Regions from separate parts of the Homo sapiens genome. Here region 1 is linked to region 2. The links come from fine-mapping of genetic effects on gene expression. Tissue or cell type: cerebellar hemisphere. Region 2 holds a variant in brackets; the other region holds the start of a gene. All regions are shown on one strand. Distances are between the middles of the regions.

Region 1 (8,101 bases), 52 kb after region 2:
ATCAAACCAGAATAAAGCCATGCTAATTACAACACTGGTTAATATGTATTGAGTGCTTACTACATACAAGGCATGGCTTCCAGCATTATACACGCATTAATTAACTTAATCCTTGCAATAGAGTGGTTAATACCATTCCTCTTTTACAGATGAGCAAAATGAGACACAGATTCCTGCAAATTGTCCAAGTCAGTAGCAGGGCTCAGATCAACACCCAGGGGTCTTAGCACCATCTTAGCGCTAGGCCAGGGTGTGTGTCTGCGTGGAGAGGCTCCTCTGACCTCTCCCCAGGAGGCACATTAAATTGAACCTCGGAGGATGAGTAGGATTCAGACACAGGAAGACAAGGAGGTACAGGGAGGGCATTTCTGATGGCAGGAACAGCACGGGCCAAGGCACAGAGCTGAGAGTTCAGCTGAGGGCATGGATCTGTAGAAAACCGTTTACCAAACGGAGAGAGGCCACATGCTAACGGGCATACTACAAATCAAATGCCTCTCGTTCATAAGTTCAGGGAACACTGGAGTAAATGTGACCCAGCTCGGGATTCTACATTGCAGGGCTTCTCAGGGTCTTTGGGGTGCTCGTGTGGCTGAGTAGCCAGCAAAGCTCTGGTCTGCAGGGAGGAAGCCTGGTTATCCTGCAGCATCTCAACAGGTCAGCTTGTTGGAAAACATGTGGCTGGAAATCAGGCCTGGCAGGGAGGAAGCCCAGGCCTCACGGCAGCTTTGTGTTTTTTTGTTTTTTTTTTTTAAAGAAAACTTGGACCCACTCAACAGTTTTGAGCTGGGGAGTGACATGATCTGAGTTGTGTTGACAGGCCAGAAATCTGAGCACATTTAAAAAGAGAGAGAGAGGGGGGAAACCTTCCGTCAGTCCAAGACTACAAATAAGAAAATAACCTGTCGCACGGAGCCATTGGAAGCAGCAAGCGAGCGCGTGTGGGATCCGTACAACACTTTTAGACTCCCTTCCTCTCGCACACCCCCTCTCCATCTGTCGCAAAGGGCACCAGGAAGATGCAGGGAGGAATATTCCAGCTCTGGGGGCTCCAGAGCTCAGCAGCCCAGATGGGGGGCTCTCACAGGAGCCACATCACCTCTCATGTGTTGTTACTGGTGAGGACCAAGGGGCTGTCAGTATTTCCACCCTCAGCAGGCTTTCAGAGAAATGCCTGTGACTTCATCAAAACCTTCTGCCCAGAGAAAGAACTCTTCTACAGTCCTCCACCCAAGGCCAGAAAGGGGCCTCTCTCACTCCCTCTCCAGCTTGGACTAAATCATCCTGATTAAGTCATTGAGCTTCTTCCCTAGAAGCCACCCAGCAGGAAGGCCAGCATCCAAAATCCTGGCTCCTCTCTATCACTTATAAGTTAGTTCCCCAGTTTGGGACTCGATTTTCTGCATCTGCAGAATGGGGAGAAGAGCCAATCCATGTCTTGCGGGTGAGACGACGCAGGAGCAGCATCCGGCCTGGAACGCCATTAACTATCTAATGAATGTTGGTTTTCCTCCCTTCTCTCAACACATGGTTCACACCAGCACTGCATAGGTGCTGCATGACTGCAAGTACAGACGTGAATTACCGTGAGTTTCCGAGGGGTTGGTAAAGGCCAGAAAGTACTCAGAGAAAACTATGGCTTTAAAGGAACTTCCAACAGCCTGATGTGTTGAGCCAAAGCACTCCCGCCCCGTTTTCTCTTCTTACGAAAGAGGAAGTGAGATTAACTTTACCATTTAGGAAAGTACAGAGGAGCCCCCAGAGTGCCACCCTCTACCAAACGGTGAGAGGTTCACTGGGGGGCCCCGCTGCTCCCCAGAGCCTGAACTGCAACTTGGCTTGGCCTCCTCCAGGCCAGAGAGAAGAAATGAATGGGAGTTTATCTGAGGTCGGCCTGGGGGGTGACTCAGAGGTCTCAAGGCCTACCTGGGGCCAAGCAGGCATCCTGCGGGTTCAGCGTCAGGCCCTGCTGACACAAAATCAGGTGCCAGGTGTCCCCAGGCCTCAGTCCCTTGCCCTTCTCCCAGCCTCAGAATCTCCCTCAGTGCAGTTGTTTTAGGAAACAGGCCTCACATTGGGTCCAAAAACATAGGTTGGTGACTTCACTGGGATCTTTTTAGAATTTCCCTTTGGCAGCATTTGTGCTAAAAGCAATCTTTAGAAACTTCTTCTCTTGCCTCCCCCACCCAGGATAATTCACATGATTGGCCCCACCCCCCCAAAACAGTGATCATGTGAAGACACAGGAATCATGTGACACCTCCCAGGCTGACAGTTCTGCCTGAGACACTAGTAGTCATTCAATCCAAAGCCGCCTTCCTAAACCTGACATTTTAGTTTCTCACTCGAACAAATCCATTTTCTTAGAAAATTGGACAACTGCCTCCTTGTACCTTCCTACCCTCATATCCTGTCTCTCTACTTCTTTGTTGTAAATTCCATGTCTGGAGCAATAGGGGGAGGGGCCTGAGGCCCCATCCTTCAGCCAAACCAGGTGACTTCCCTGCCCAGGCCCATGGTGTGACCAGGACCCCGAAGAACAGATACTGAAGGATAATGGGAGACTTGAGCTATGATGGTCGCACCTCATCCCTTCCCCACCACCCTCGACCAAGAAATTCATTCTTACCTCCTAAGATTTATTTATTTCAAAGCTAATCTTGGCCCCTCTGCTGCTCCCACTTTTTCAGGCTATTGATGCTGAATGGATTGGAACGGAAGTTTTATGGCCCAATCTTTACCATCTTATAGACTGTTTTTATAGGCAAAAGGGGGAGATGTGCTCACAAGAAAGGTGTTGGTGTTCCCAGCCGGTGCCCCAGGAAAGGCAGGCTGCCCATCGGAGCACTTGCTAATCAGCGTCACTGCTCGTTTGCCAGGGACTGAACCACAGCCTCCTGGTCGGAGAAGGGTCTGGAATAGACATTTAGAAATTAACTCGGGCCCAATTCCCTGCTTCAGGAAAATTAAGCACTTGTGAGTGACACTTGTGCATTTCCAGGCCAGGAAGGATGGCAGGGCAGGAACTCGGACTTTTGCAGGGTACAAATGGCCAGCTCAGGCAGGAAGGAGCAGATAGGAGATGCCACTCACTGGAGAGACGTGAACTGTATCAGTGCTCCCTTCAGCCCAGCAAGGACGCAACTATAACTGAAAAGAACTGGGGGTGGAGGGTGGGGTGGGGTGGGGGGATGCCTATGTGAATTCCTGGGTTTCAGGGGAAACTGCAGGGCAGAGAGAAGCAGCTGTCTACCCCCCATACTTCTCCTTCCACCCACTCTTTGCTAGTTCTCCCTTTCTCCCTGCTATCAGATGGTTACCATCTCTAGTCAAACGCAAAAGGGGGTGTTGGACACTGAGCTCATCTTTACCTCCCTCCTCAAGGGTGGGAGGTACAGAGAGACCCCACTGCCTACAACACAGTTTCAAGACGACAAAAAACAAGATCCCCATTTTTCTCTCCCTCCCAACTCCCTTAATGCCATTTCTCTGCTCCCCCCGCCCCCCACCCGGTGCCCTCCCAGGAGACCCATGGTTTTGCAAAACCCATTTAAGAAGCAAGACTCCTGAATGGTGACCTCACCCTTTGGTGAACATGCACAGTAGCCTTCAGAGCCCGCCTGCCGGCGACAGCCAGGTGTTTGATGTAGGCCAACAGAAAGACATGGTCAGAGCCACAGGTAACATCCCCGCGGAGCACCTGAACTGCAGGGAGCTGCCTGGAAGCTCGGGGAAGGCAGGAGGAAGGGGGAGCTGGGAGCGCCTCAAGGAGCAAGACCACCAGGGAGAGGCTTTGGCAACCACAGGGACAATCCACCGTGTTTTTACATAAGGATCTGTTGCTCGCAGCAGCTCGCTCTGGGGTTACCGCGGCCTCCCGGCTCCCTCTCTCCCAGGCACACACTAACACCGGTTTACTCTGCGCACCAGAGGGAGGGCTCACTCTTCCCTAATTGCAACAGCTTGTCTCTGTTCCATTCCAGGCAGCATCGGGAGGACCTCTGCCCTCACCTCCTCCCCTCACACCCTGAAGTCAAACATGTGGAAAGTCGTATGTCCATGGGGACAGATTCTGGGGAAGCCGGACGGCCCTGCTCTGAAAGCCACTGTCAGTCAGCCTTCCCCATTGGACCGGGCAGGGGCTGAGTGAAGCAACTCGGCTCTTTTGTCTCAGTGCCCAGCACAGTGCACAGAGTCAGAGTCCACAGAGACAAACTCTCATAGAAGAGACTTGGGTTCTACCCTTGGCTGTGTGACCTTGGGCATGTCGCTGGCCCTCTCTGGGCCTCAGTTTCTGCATCTATAACCCTGGTTACAGGCGTCTCTCCCCCTATTACTGCTCGGCATTAGCCGAAGGGGTCCCAGTGCCAGTCTGAGAGGCCTGAGCCCGCAGTTTGGGGAGTGCAGCGGTGGGGAGCGGGGGGGTGCTTACCTGACCAGGCGCAGGACGCGGCGAGCAGCAGGCAGAGCAGCGGCCCGAGGCGGCCGGGGGCCGGGCCGGCGGGCTCCATGGGCCGCGGCTGCGGAGCGAGGAGGGAGAGCGGCCGTGAGTGCGCGCTCGGGCGGGAGCAGGCTGGAGCGGGGAAATGACTAAGGCTCCCCCCCTTCCCCCCTCCCGGCTGGGCCTCCCCCCGACTCCGGAACGGGCGCCTGGAGCGGCCGCCGCCGCCGCCGCGGTTTTTGGAGACCCCCCCTCCCCGCCCCCCAGGAGAAATGGAGAGACGGAGACTGGGAGAGACCCCAAGCGCGCGAGAAATAAAGCCAGGGGCGGCCAGAGAGAGGCGGCAGGAGAGAGAAACAGACCCAAGGGAGCCAGGCAGAGAGCCAGAGACACGGAGAGGCGAGAGGGGGAGAAAGAGGGGGAGAGCGAGGAGCGAGGAGCGAGGCGGCGCGCAGACCGACAGACCGCGCGGGAGAGAGGACCGCGCGAGCAGGGGCGAGGGGCAGCACGGCCGAGCCCGGCCGCGCGGAGCCGCCCCCGCCGCTGCCCACCTGCCCCGCCCGGGCTCCACACGGCGCGGGCGGCTGGGCTCGCTCCCGGCCCGCAGTCCCGGCCGCTGCCCCCGCCCTCCCGGCAGCCCGACCCCCTCCCTCCTTCCCTTTCCCCTCCTCCCGTCTTCCCGCCGCCCGGGGAGGCTTCGGGGCTCCGGCCCCGCCGGCACCTTCTCTGCGAGCGAGCGCCCGCCTGCGCGCCCCGGGGGAGGGAGCGAGGGCTGCGAGCTGCGCGCCCGGCCGGGGAGGGCAGCGTCCTCCCCCGCGCCGGCGCCCGGGCCCCGGCTGCTGTCCCGGGAAGGCGGCCCCGCGAGCCGCCGCGGCCCGCTGGGGCTCGGGACTAGACGAGCCTCCGGCTCCGACAGCGTGCCCGTTCAGAAGCCCGCGCGGCTGGTCCCCAGCCCCGACCGGTCCCGCTCTGCCCCTCCCCGTCCCTGCCGGGCCCGGACCTGCGCCGCCCGCGAGGGCTGGAAGGCACTGGAAGCGCCGCCGGGGCTGCCCAGAGGCCGGGTCCCCGCTCCACTTTGCGCAAACTTGTTTTTCTAAGGTCAGCGCTGCGAGCTGGCTACATCGTCCTCTTAAGGTGGACCGGGGAAGTTGCGGCCGACCTCCCCTCGCCTCCGGACTCCGGCCGCGCGGCTGCTCCCCGCTTCCCACTGGCGAGAGGCTGGAGGCGGCGAAGGAGTCGGGGCGCGGGGGCGCGGGGGGCGGGGGGGCGTCTGCCTTTTAACCCTCCCCAGGAGGTCGTGCCTCTGAGCCCCAAAGCTGAAGGCCCCTCTTGGGGGTGGGTGCGGGCCGGAGGGGCCCGATCCTTTCAGAGCCGGGCCGAGGTGAAGGAAAAGAAGGAAGTAAGTGAACGCAGGGGGAAGGGGAGAGGAAGAAGAGATGATGGTACAAAAATAGCGTGTGTGTAGGAAGGACTTCGGTGCCGCCTGGAAAAGAGGCGCGGGGAGGAGAGGGAGCGAGAAGGGGGCTGTGGCGCGCAACCAGAGGGGAAGGGTCGGGGCCTTCCCAGGGAGGTGGAGGCCCCCTGGCCAGGTGTCTCGGTGGTGGAGGGCGGACTGGGCGGGTGGGAGGCCCAGGCCGGGGCGTGTGTGGGAGAGCGGGGCCCTGAAGGCCTGGGTTCCGGGAGAAGGACAAGCCCTGAGGAAGATGAGGGGAAGGGGAGCCGGGGCCAGAGGCCTGGAGTTGGAGAGGACAGAACCCCGGTTTTCCCGGAGGGAACGCCGTTCCTGTAGTAGCCAGGTCAGTGATGGGGAGTGCCAGTGTCGTGGTCACCTGGCAGAAGGCTCCGCACTGTGGGAGGAACACAAGTTCAAGACCCCGCTGCTAATGGGAGAGAATTTTGGTTCACACAGTGGCGGTTAAGAGGACAGGAATGACACAAGGTGAGAGAAGGCCCAACCCTGTAAATGGACAGAAAGTTGAGGCCCGGAGAGGGAATAGGTTTGCTTAAGGCCACACAGCAAAGCTTGGGGTAGAAACAAGATTTGAATTCCTGATTCCCAGGTTAAAGACCTGTGCAAAGTAACACCACTGCCTCCCCTCCTGCCCCGAGCCTCCTGGTGAAGGCATGGCCCTGCTGTTGTGCAGGGGGGCAGGGAAGGTGCCACACTTGAGAACATGGGCTGAACTCCGTGGGTTCAAATCCCCCGGCTACTGTTATGAGCTGGGTGGACTGGAAAGTGCCTTACCTCTTCTGTGCCTCAGCTTCTTCATCTGAGACGAGGCCAGCGTGAGTCTCAATTGTGAGGATTTGATGAGTTAATATTTGTAAGACATGTTAAAAAGAGCCTAGCACATACCAAGTGCAACATAAGCATTTGATAAATAAGTGAAGTGTTTGACAACAGTCCTTGAGAACCCACAGGGTTCTGGGCAGCATTTGAAGTGCAAGGGAATTTTCATTTCTCTGGGTGTGGGAGAGCACGAGGTCCCTGTCCATGAGGAATTTATATTCTACTAGGGGAGACAGGTAAGTGGACAAGTAGAAATAATTAATGAAGAACGGAAGATTGAACTTAGAGAAGGAGAGGGGTGAGCGTATTTAGATAAGGGGGCCAGTAAGACCTCCCTGAGACATGGGTTGCTGAATCACAAGTAGGGTCAGCAAGGCGAAGATTTGGGGAGAAAGGTGTTCCAGGAAGAGGGCCCAGCACAAGGAGGGGAAGGCCCCAGGTGGCTAGGCCGGAGGAGAGAAAGCGCAGTATGCAGGACTGGGGAGGGTGGGATGGTCTCCAAGACCTGGGTAAAGAGCCTGCGTTTATTCTGCAGTTGGGAGACCCCTAGAGGGTTTTCAGCACGGGAGGGCCATGTCTGATTTATGTGTCTAAAAGGCCAGTCTGCAAGCGGAGGGTGGACTGGAGAGAGAGGAGCGTGGAATTGGGCACCAATGAGAAAGATTGTTCTGGGGTTATCCTGGTATCTGAGGTGGGTGCAGGGAAGGTCTCCAACTCTTCAGGCCACATCGGGTCTAGACCATGAAGGTAACCAGGGAGGCTCCTGGGAAAATCTGTCACCAGACTCCATCTGGGGTGGGAGTGGAGATGGGGGCTGCTGATGAAGTCAGAGAAGAGGCAGCCTCCTGCCCTGGACTTCCAGAAGGCTCTGCTGTTCACTGTTCCTCAAGACACATACACACTCACAAACCTGCTGGGGGATTAGGAAACTGGAGATTAGGGAAGGATAATAATTGAACCACCTGCTATTTATATATAGCACCTTTGGCAAAGGCGCTCAGCAGGGCTTCCCTCACCTCTCCCCCTGGAGGGGGCCCTGACCCTTGTTCTCTGTCCACATAAAAATCATCCTTGGCCAACCTCAAGGCTGAGAAGCCATTGAGACCCACGGGCCATGGGTAGACTGATGTGAGGGGCAACTTGTCTGAGGCCACACAGAGAGATTATGGCAGATAATTGACATGAATCAGCCACCCGCACAGCAGGAGGTCTGTGCTGCCCTGCGTTAAAATCTAACTGCCTTCACACATGTTCACTCACGCACTCAACAGTATTAAGCATCTGCTAGGTGCCAGGCACTGGGAATGCAACAGCTGGAAAACAGATAAAAATCTCTGCCCTCAAGAAGCTGACATTCTAGTGGGAGGAAA
Region 2 (8,101 bases):
TCATAACCACTTAGGGTGTGTGCCCATTGAGCCACATGGTCCTTACTTAATTTCTTTCTCTCTTCTTGTCTTTCTTTCTGTATTTTTTCTTTTTTCTTTTGTCTGAAGCACACGTTAAACTTGCATAAGCTGTAATTTTATTGTAATCAAACTGTCAAAGAGGCCCAAAGTGACAGGGAAGTGAATGCAACTGCCTCTCTTCCTGCAGTGGTCAGGGAAGGCTTCTGGGAGGAGGTGGCATTAAAGGCATAAAGGGTGAATAGGAGTTTAAACAGCACACAAGGAAGGCAGGCAAGAAGAGTGAAGGTACAGGTGAGAAGAGATTGTTTTGGGAGGGACTCTTAAGTCCTTCCAGGTGGCTGTGTGAGCTGGGCAGGAGGCGAGGTGGGGTGGCAGACAGGGCCTTTCAGTGCCTCACTAGGGGAGCTGGACTTTATGTTAAAAGCAGCGACCGTCAATGTGTGGACGGTGGGCTCCTTGGGGATGTCCGAGCTCCACACTGTAGCCAAGACAGGGAAACCAAGGCCCCGTAAGGCTCCTCAGCCTGTCCCACCCCACTCAGTTCCCCAAGGCTCTTCCATGCTGACCAAGCACTTACCTAAACGCTCTTATCCTCATGTCTGGCTGACGGAAGCGGCTCAGTCTGGCAGGTCTCTCTAGAAGGGCATCTACTGGGGGACGGAGAGAGGGTTGACAGAGAAAATACAGGATATCTATGCCCAGTTACAGTTGAACTTTGGACAAACAGCAAGTGATTTTTATATCTCAAATATTGCATGATATATACTAAAAGTATTCATTATTTTTATGAAATTCAAATGTGATTGGGGGTCCTCTATTTTTATTTGTTAAATCTGTCTAGTCTAGATGGAGGGGAACAGGTCACTTCCCAAATAGAATTGAAACCCCTGTGCCTTAGTCAGCATCCCATCAGAGAATTAGAGATGCTGAGCCTTTAGGAGTCATCTAGAACAAGGGATTCTGCCTCTAGTGTGGACTTGCAAGGCCCATGGATCGGCTGGACCAGCAGTCGGAAGGAAGAGGTGCCACGGACAAGAGTAAGAACAAACGGGAACATGTGTCTGTCCGCCACCCCTGCCCATGTCACTGCCACAGTGACCTGCAGGAGAATCCGCCGCCTTCCCTCTGAGAGGCTTTGTAACCATGGTTACAAAGGAAGGGCCCTGGGGAGTATGGAATCTGCACCTCATTTCTGCCCTGGTCTGTAACTTTGGGTAAGTTACTGATAGTAGTCAACTTCTCCATACCTTGGTGTCCTCACACATTAAATGTATACAAAAACTCACACCTCCCTTAGAGAGCTGCGGAGAAGATCCAATGGGAATGAGCCCAGCCTGGCAGCTGACATTTCCTAAGCAGTCAATTAATAATAGTTACTAGCAGTGTCAAAGAGTTGCTATCCATTTATTTTGCTGTAAAAAAAAAGTCACTTGTTTTAAAAGACAAGATAGGCTGGGTACGGTGACTCACGCCTGTAATCCCAGCACTTTGGGACACCAAGGTGGGTGGATCACCTGAGGTCAGGAGTTCGAGACCAGCCTGGCCAACATGGCGAAACCCTGTCTCTACTAAAAATACAAAGATTAGCCAGGTGTGCTGGTGTGTGCCTGTGATCCCAGCTACTTAGGAGGCTGAGGTGGGAGAATTGCTTGATCTGGGGAGGCAGAGGTTGCTGTGAGCCAAGATCATGCCACTGGACTCCAGCCTGGGCGACAGAGTGAGACTCTGTCTCAAAAAAACAAAACAAAAACAAAAGACAAGATATTAAGAGGCAGTATGTTTCAAAATCCTCTCTTGATTAAGTAACTCACCAGGTAAGTCTTGGAAAGATAACATAAACCACCTTCAAAAGCATCTCCAAATGCCAAAGTGAAAATCAGATACCGCGTACAAGAGAGCTACGAATCTCTGAAATCTTAGCGATTCTTCCCCCAAATAAATGGAACAGAGAAGCGCTAAGTAATGGGAAAATAACAAAATTCTGCTTCAGCACTGTTACAGATGCAGTGACTGCTGATTAAAAGAAAATACTTCCTTTAAAAAGGCCACTTATGAAAAGGAAACTCTGGTAGCAAAAGCTGGCATGGAATGGGGGTCAGGCAGCAGGTGGTGGCCACAACCAGGGGGCATTGATCACATGTGAGATGGGGAAGGCCAGTGGGCCTCCAGGAGGGCTGAAGGGCAGAGGACCCAGAGGACAGTGGCTCCCTTCCTTCCCGCTGCTCAGAGAGTGGTGGGGAGAAGGGTTTCCTGTAACCTCAGGGCCTGTTTTCACTGCTTGTTTTCATGGCCATTCAATGCTCTGGCTTGTTTTCAGGCCTGAAGAGGGAAAAAAAAATAAAAGTCAATTCCTTGTATTTGGAAGAATAGGGGTAAACTGGCCCTCTTCAGGGTGTTGGAAGCCTCTCTCTGCCTCCTGCTGGAAAAAGAGGCCCCTGGGCAGTCTTTTTAGCCACTTAGCCTGGTTCTGAGGTTTTCTTCTTAACAACTTATAATTCCAGATTGCAGCAAGAAATACAAATGCATTGGAGACCGGGTCTGTGCCAGAGGTGGAGGGGTTGGGCAGAGTGTTCCCAGGAGCACAGCAGGAGGAGAAAGTTCCAGGGTAGAAACTGGAACTCCTGCATGTTGGACACAAGTGGAATGGAGGCAATGTGGCCATCTGGATATGATTAAAAAAAAAAAAAGTTCACCCCTTTGATCCAAGCATCTCATATCTGGGGCTATCTATGCAATAATGTTTAAGACAAAATTGTTTGCAAGTAGGGAAAAAATAGAAACAGTCCAGCTCTCCATCAATAGGGAATTCATTAATTAAATTATTATGTTGACATCTGTCAGTGGCAACTTGTTTCTTTTTTTCCTTCAACTCTGTCTTCCCCATCAGCTGGTCCCGTGGGCTCTGCCACTGAGGCATGTTCCAGGCTGGAGGCTGCATCCCTAGTCCCTGCCACCATCGCCTCTTGCCCGTGCCTCTGAATCCTGTAGCCTGACAAACTTCCTGGTTCCTCCATTGGTGCCTCTCCAATCTGTTCCTACACAGCTGCAGGACCCCCGGGTTCAGGGACTTCACATGTCTCTCAGGCTAAAATCCACAGGCGCTGTCTCACTGGGCCCTGGCCTGACTCTCCAACCTGGTTTCAAAAATGCTCATTCTTTACCTCCAGTTGAATCACACTTGAGCTTAGTGCAGCCTCCCAGCCTTTGCCCTGGCTGCTTCCTCTGCCTGGACTGCTCCATTCTCCTTCCTTCTCTTCCTTCCGGTGGCAGTAAAATGCCATATCCCTGGGGACTTCACGCACTGTCTGTAAATTGTTTTCCCTCTCCCAACCAGCGTCTCTCTAACACTTTGTCCATCTTTTCTTTTTACTTTTTTCTTTTTTCTTTTTTTTTTTTTGTTTTTTGAGACAGAGTCTCACTCTGTCACCCAGGCTGGAGTGTGGTGGTGAGATCTCGGCTCACTGCAAACTCTGCCTCCCAGATTTAAATAATCCTGGTGCCTCAGCCTCCAGAATAGATGGGATTACAGGCATGCACCACCACATAGAGCATTTTTGTTTTGTTTTGTTTTTTTGTATTTTTAGTACAGATGGATTTTCTCTACTAAAACCCTAGGCTGGTCTTGAATGCCTGGCCTCAAATGATCTGCCCGCCTCGGCCTCCCAAAGTCCTAGGATTTCAGGCATGAGCCACAGAGCCTGGCCCCATCTTATTTTCTTCATAGCACTCAGTATAAGGTGAAATGCTCTCAACTATTTATTCATGCATTTGTCAATTATCCCTCCCATGAGAACTCAGAGCAAGGACTGAGTGTGTTGTATGCCCTTGCCTGGTGTACAGGAGCTGCCCGCTCTACACATGTTTGGTGAATGAATGAATGAATGAATGAATGAATACAAGAATGTTATGAAGCTGCTTGAAAGAATGAGGTAGACCTGTATGTCTTACTTGGAAAGGTGCCTTAAATGTATACATGTAAATCCACTTATGAAAAACCAGAAATTAATCAAGTCTATGGAATTAGAAGAGTGACTAGTTTTTGAGGGCTCACTATCATCTGGGCACAGTTTTAACCACTTTTACATTTATTGTCTTGTCTCATTTGGTCCTCACAGTAACCTTCTGGGATAGGTACAGTTTTTGGCACCATTCTACAGAGGAGGACGCTGACACAGAGAGGTTAAGAAACTTGCTTAAGGTCACGCAGTCAGGAAATGGGGGAGCCAGGAAATGAATGTATAGGGTCTGACCTCTGAAAGAACATTCACTAAATGGTGTAGAGTGTTTATTTCGGGATGGACAGGGGCTGAGGTGAGATTCTGGAGGCCGTGGGGTATTAGGGGAGAGGTCCAGACGCCAATTCTATTCCTGCAGTACTGTGTGATCTTGGGCAAGTCATCTGCTTCTCTGTGCTTACCTGGGAACCAGAGGCGATGGTGCAGGGCTACCGAGAGAAGTAAATAGGATAACGTACCCACAGCGCCCAGCTCGAGGCCCTCCATCAGCCGACGATGGGAATGTTTGGTGGAGTAAGTCTGCCCTTCAAGGCCTGAAAGCCCCGTCCCGGTTCCCTGCGCCAGGGCCGCACAGGGGTGGGGAGAGGGCCGCAGGGCCTGGTTGCTTGGCTTGAGGCAGGGTCCTCCCTCAGGGCCTCGGCTCTCCCAGCTGTCGGCCGCGCTGCAGCTTCCCCTGCTCTGGACCGCGACTGCCTGGGCTGGGCGGCCGCACCACGGAATGCGCAGGGGTCATTTTTGGAAGAGCTCAGCTCCAGGCGCAAGGTGCCAAGAGCAGGGCGGATGACTTCAAAGGGCCTTTGCAGCACGTCCTGAAAGATGAGCCCTTGCAGCTCTCCCTGCCCCCGCAGAACACACAGCTTGAAAGGGAAATCGAGCTCGGAGCAGGTGGCTCAGGAATTTGGTGCACGCTGGGGAG[GCAGC/C]TCATTTGGGCACAAATACGCGAGGAGGGCGTGGCCTCCTTACACTCCCGGTTAGTATTGCGCGTTTGGGTCCGGGGTAAGCTCGCCTTCTGAGCTTTCATCGCTGGCCGCATTTCGCATTTATTTTTCTGTTTATTTCATGATCCCTTTCTTCCCCGACGAGGGCCTGGGATTTGTCTGTTGCTCTCTGTGTCTACAGTTCGACCTGCAGCGGAGGATGAGTAAATGTTTCCCTAGTGAATGAATGCGTTTTCCTCTTCCACCGGTTTCATCACGTTGGAAAGGCACCGGGGTTTAATCCTGCCTCTAGTAATAACCAGTTGGGTAATCTTGGACTTCGCTGTTCAGCTATAGGCTTAAAATCTGCCTCCATTTGAACCCAGGCCCTGCCTCTTACTAGCTGCGTCACTTTAGAAAGTTGCCAAACTTCTCTGTGTTTCAATTTCCTCATTTGGGCAACGGGGTACTGAGTGCCTATGTCACAGATTGGAGTGAGGGATAAAGGGCTTAACACATACGAAGCGCGACTAGGACGGCACATAGTAAGGTCTAGATAAATATTAACTCGTATTATTTTATTATTATTTTAAAATCAACTTTATTAAAGTATTAACTTACAAACAATAAAATGCACTCATTTTAAAGTATACAGTTTGATGAGTTTTGACTGATATGTACACCCATGTAAGCACCACCTCAATCAAGATAAGCATTTCCAGGTCCCCGAAAGTTCCCTTTGTCCCTTTTAGTCAAGTGCTTCCCTCGCCCTAGCACCTGACTGATGAGTTTTGCCGGTTCTCGAACTTTCCATGAGTCTGGGAATGGTGGTTCACGCCTCTAATCCCAGCACTTTGGGAGACTGAAGCAGGAGGATCACTTGAGCCCAGGAATTTGAGACCAGCCTGGGCAACGTAGGGAGACCCAGTCTCTACAAAAATTTTTTTAAAAAATTAGCTGGGCTGGTTGGCATGCACCTGTAGTTCCAGCTACTTGCAGGCTGAGGCAGGAAGATCACTTGAGCCCAGGAGTTTGAGACCAGCCTGGGCCACATAGGGAAACCCTGTCTCTACAAAAAAAATTTAAAAAAAATTAACCAGGCATAATGCATTGCACTAACACTTATTCCACACTCAAGAAACGCTCTCTCCTACCTCCTCTCCCTTCTTCCCGTTAAAGGGGTCCTTCCAAGGGTATCGGGAGGCAGGAATCTAAAGGTCAAGGGCACTGTGGAGTTGATGGGGGAGAAACCACTGTGTTTATAAAGCAGGTTGTTATTTTTTCATTCTTTGCCTTGTGTCCTTTCCCCTACTTCCCTCTTTTGAGGATAATTAAAATGCAAGCTGGCACTCCCTTGGAGGAGACAGCTGAAGATTTAATTGCCCCAAGAAAAATTTTCCAGCAAAAGGTCCTGTGGTAATGGCAGCTCTCGGCCGGGCTGCCCGAGTGCCTTTGCATCTGGCACAAAACATTAGCGATAATGCATTAATCTGCATGTGCACAGGGTCCATTTACTGGCATGGGGGGGAGCCATGGCAGAATCAAGCCGACAGCCTTAGTCAGGCTGCAGCCTTCTTGCCATTAAACTCTCACCCGGCCTCATTCTGGAGACAGGTCTGTGGCCCAGATCCATGCGACCGGCTGCCGCACCAGCTGACCTTGCCCAGAGAGGGCCTGCGGGGGCAGAAGGCCCAGGTTGGTGGGAACGGCACCTTCTACCATGAGGGCTTGGCCTGTTGTCATTGAAGCAGAGCCAGGAGGACAAGTCTGTTGAGAGGCTGAGCCCCGCCAGCTCCCAAAGTTGAGCCATTGACCAGCCACGCTAGGGTTGTGCAATTTGAGAGTAGACAAATTTTTGCAATCTTTTATCCTGTTTTCTAAGTATAGCCCCAGTTTCTCTAGAAGAGGAACCAAAGGCTCAGACAAAGGTCATTGGCTCCTTGCCTGTTGGGGATCATGCGTCATTTTTTTAAAAAAGTGATTGCCCTGAACCCAGGATCATGATGAAAGGCAGAGAAACTCAGTGGGAAAAGTCAGATGTACTGAGGTTTGCTTCTAGTTCCAAACCTGCCAGCCAGGGACTCTCAGTTCTCCTAAAATGCCAAGCAGACTCCGACTTTTATGCTCTTCCTTCTCCCCCTTTGCTCTCTTCCCTCCCTCTCCCCCTTCCTTTCTTCCTTCCCACCCATCCACCCATCCGTGCTCTCCTGCATCAATCCAGCCATCCATTCAGCCTCCCTTCTTCCATCCATCTATCCTCTCATCCTCCTTCTCATCACTCCGTCCATCCTCCCATCCCTCTAATATTTGCTGGGTGCCTCCTATGGGCTTAGCATAGGAGTTACACTGATGAGTGAATCAACACCCTCCTTGCCCTGAGGCAGCAACTGGGGCAGTAGAGGAGAGGATGGTAATCATGTAATCACAGTGCCAATGTATAATTACAAATTGAGATGAGGGCTACAAAGAAGGGCTGGACATGGTTACTATGGAAGTGTTTGACAAGGGAACTTAGCCCAGCCTCTGGATTGGAGGACAAGCAGGAAAGATCCAGGGAGTGTTGCAGGCAGAGGGAGTAGCTCATGCCGGGGTCCTGTGGTTCATTTTAGAAACTGGCAGGAGGCTGGTGTTGCCAGTGCAGGGAGTGATGGAGAGAGTGGTGTGAATCGGGCTGCAGAGCTCAGTAGGGGCCAGTGCACACAGGGACGGCTGGCCTCTGCCAGGCACTGGCTCCTTGGAACTCCTTTGCACTGGCTCTTTTGCACTTACCTGGCTTCTTGTTACTTATTTTTTAGATCTCAGTTCAGGGATTTCCTCTTCAAGAAGTCTTTTTCTGCCCTGTGCAGGCTGAATGAAGCCAGTATACTTTCCTTTAATAAGACAAAGTATCTCAAATTTGGAAATAAGGCAAAAGAAGGCAGTGCTTCATCTCGTTGCCATACTGGGGCACGGTTTAAAAGCCCCACTGAAGGATTAGTTAGTTCTGTAGAAGAATATACCTGAGTTTGTCTTTCCTATTTGATTAAGGCCCAGATTGGGGCTAATTTGTAGACTTTTGTCTGGTGGGTGCAAATGGCTTCTGTCTGGCAGAAAAAAAATATCTCCAAAGATATGGCCTTATTGCCTTGTGGGACATTAACCGGATTG

The links. PIP is the estimated chance that this variant, and not a neighbour inherited with it, causes the effect.
Region 1: it holds the start of SIRPA, and the variant in region 2 is fine-mapped to the expression of SIRPA in cerebellar hemisphere (GTEx, PIP above 0.99). The same link has a PIP of 0.9 or more in cerebellum.

What each region holds. Positions count from the first base shown.
Region 1 is chr20:1,891,858-1,899,958 of GRCh38, reverse strand. SIRPA (signal regulatory protein alpha) reads right to left here and starts at 4,552. Exons shown (of 8, transcript NM_001040023.2): 1 at 4,433-4,552. The coding sequence starts at 4,511. It overlaps LOC102724545 (a long non-coding RNA gene), which reads left to right and starts at 5,709. Exons shown (of 4, transcript NR_186374.1): 1 at 5,709-5,840. RefSeq lists an enhancer at 3,392-3,907 and silencers at 5,199-5,318, 5,329-5,588.
Region 2 is chr20:1,944,046-1,952,146 of GRCh38, reverse strand. It overlaps PDYN-AS1 (PDYN antisense RNA 1), which reads right to left and starts at 4,937. Exons shown (of 4, transcript NR_134520.1): 1 at 4,496-4,937; 2 at 599-668. RefSeq lists silencers at 1,010-1,304, 4,650-4,944 and enhancers at 4,091-4,638, 6,072-6,618. The variant GCAGC/C (reference allele first, on the strand shown) is at 4,954.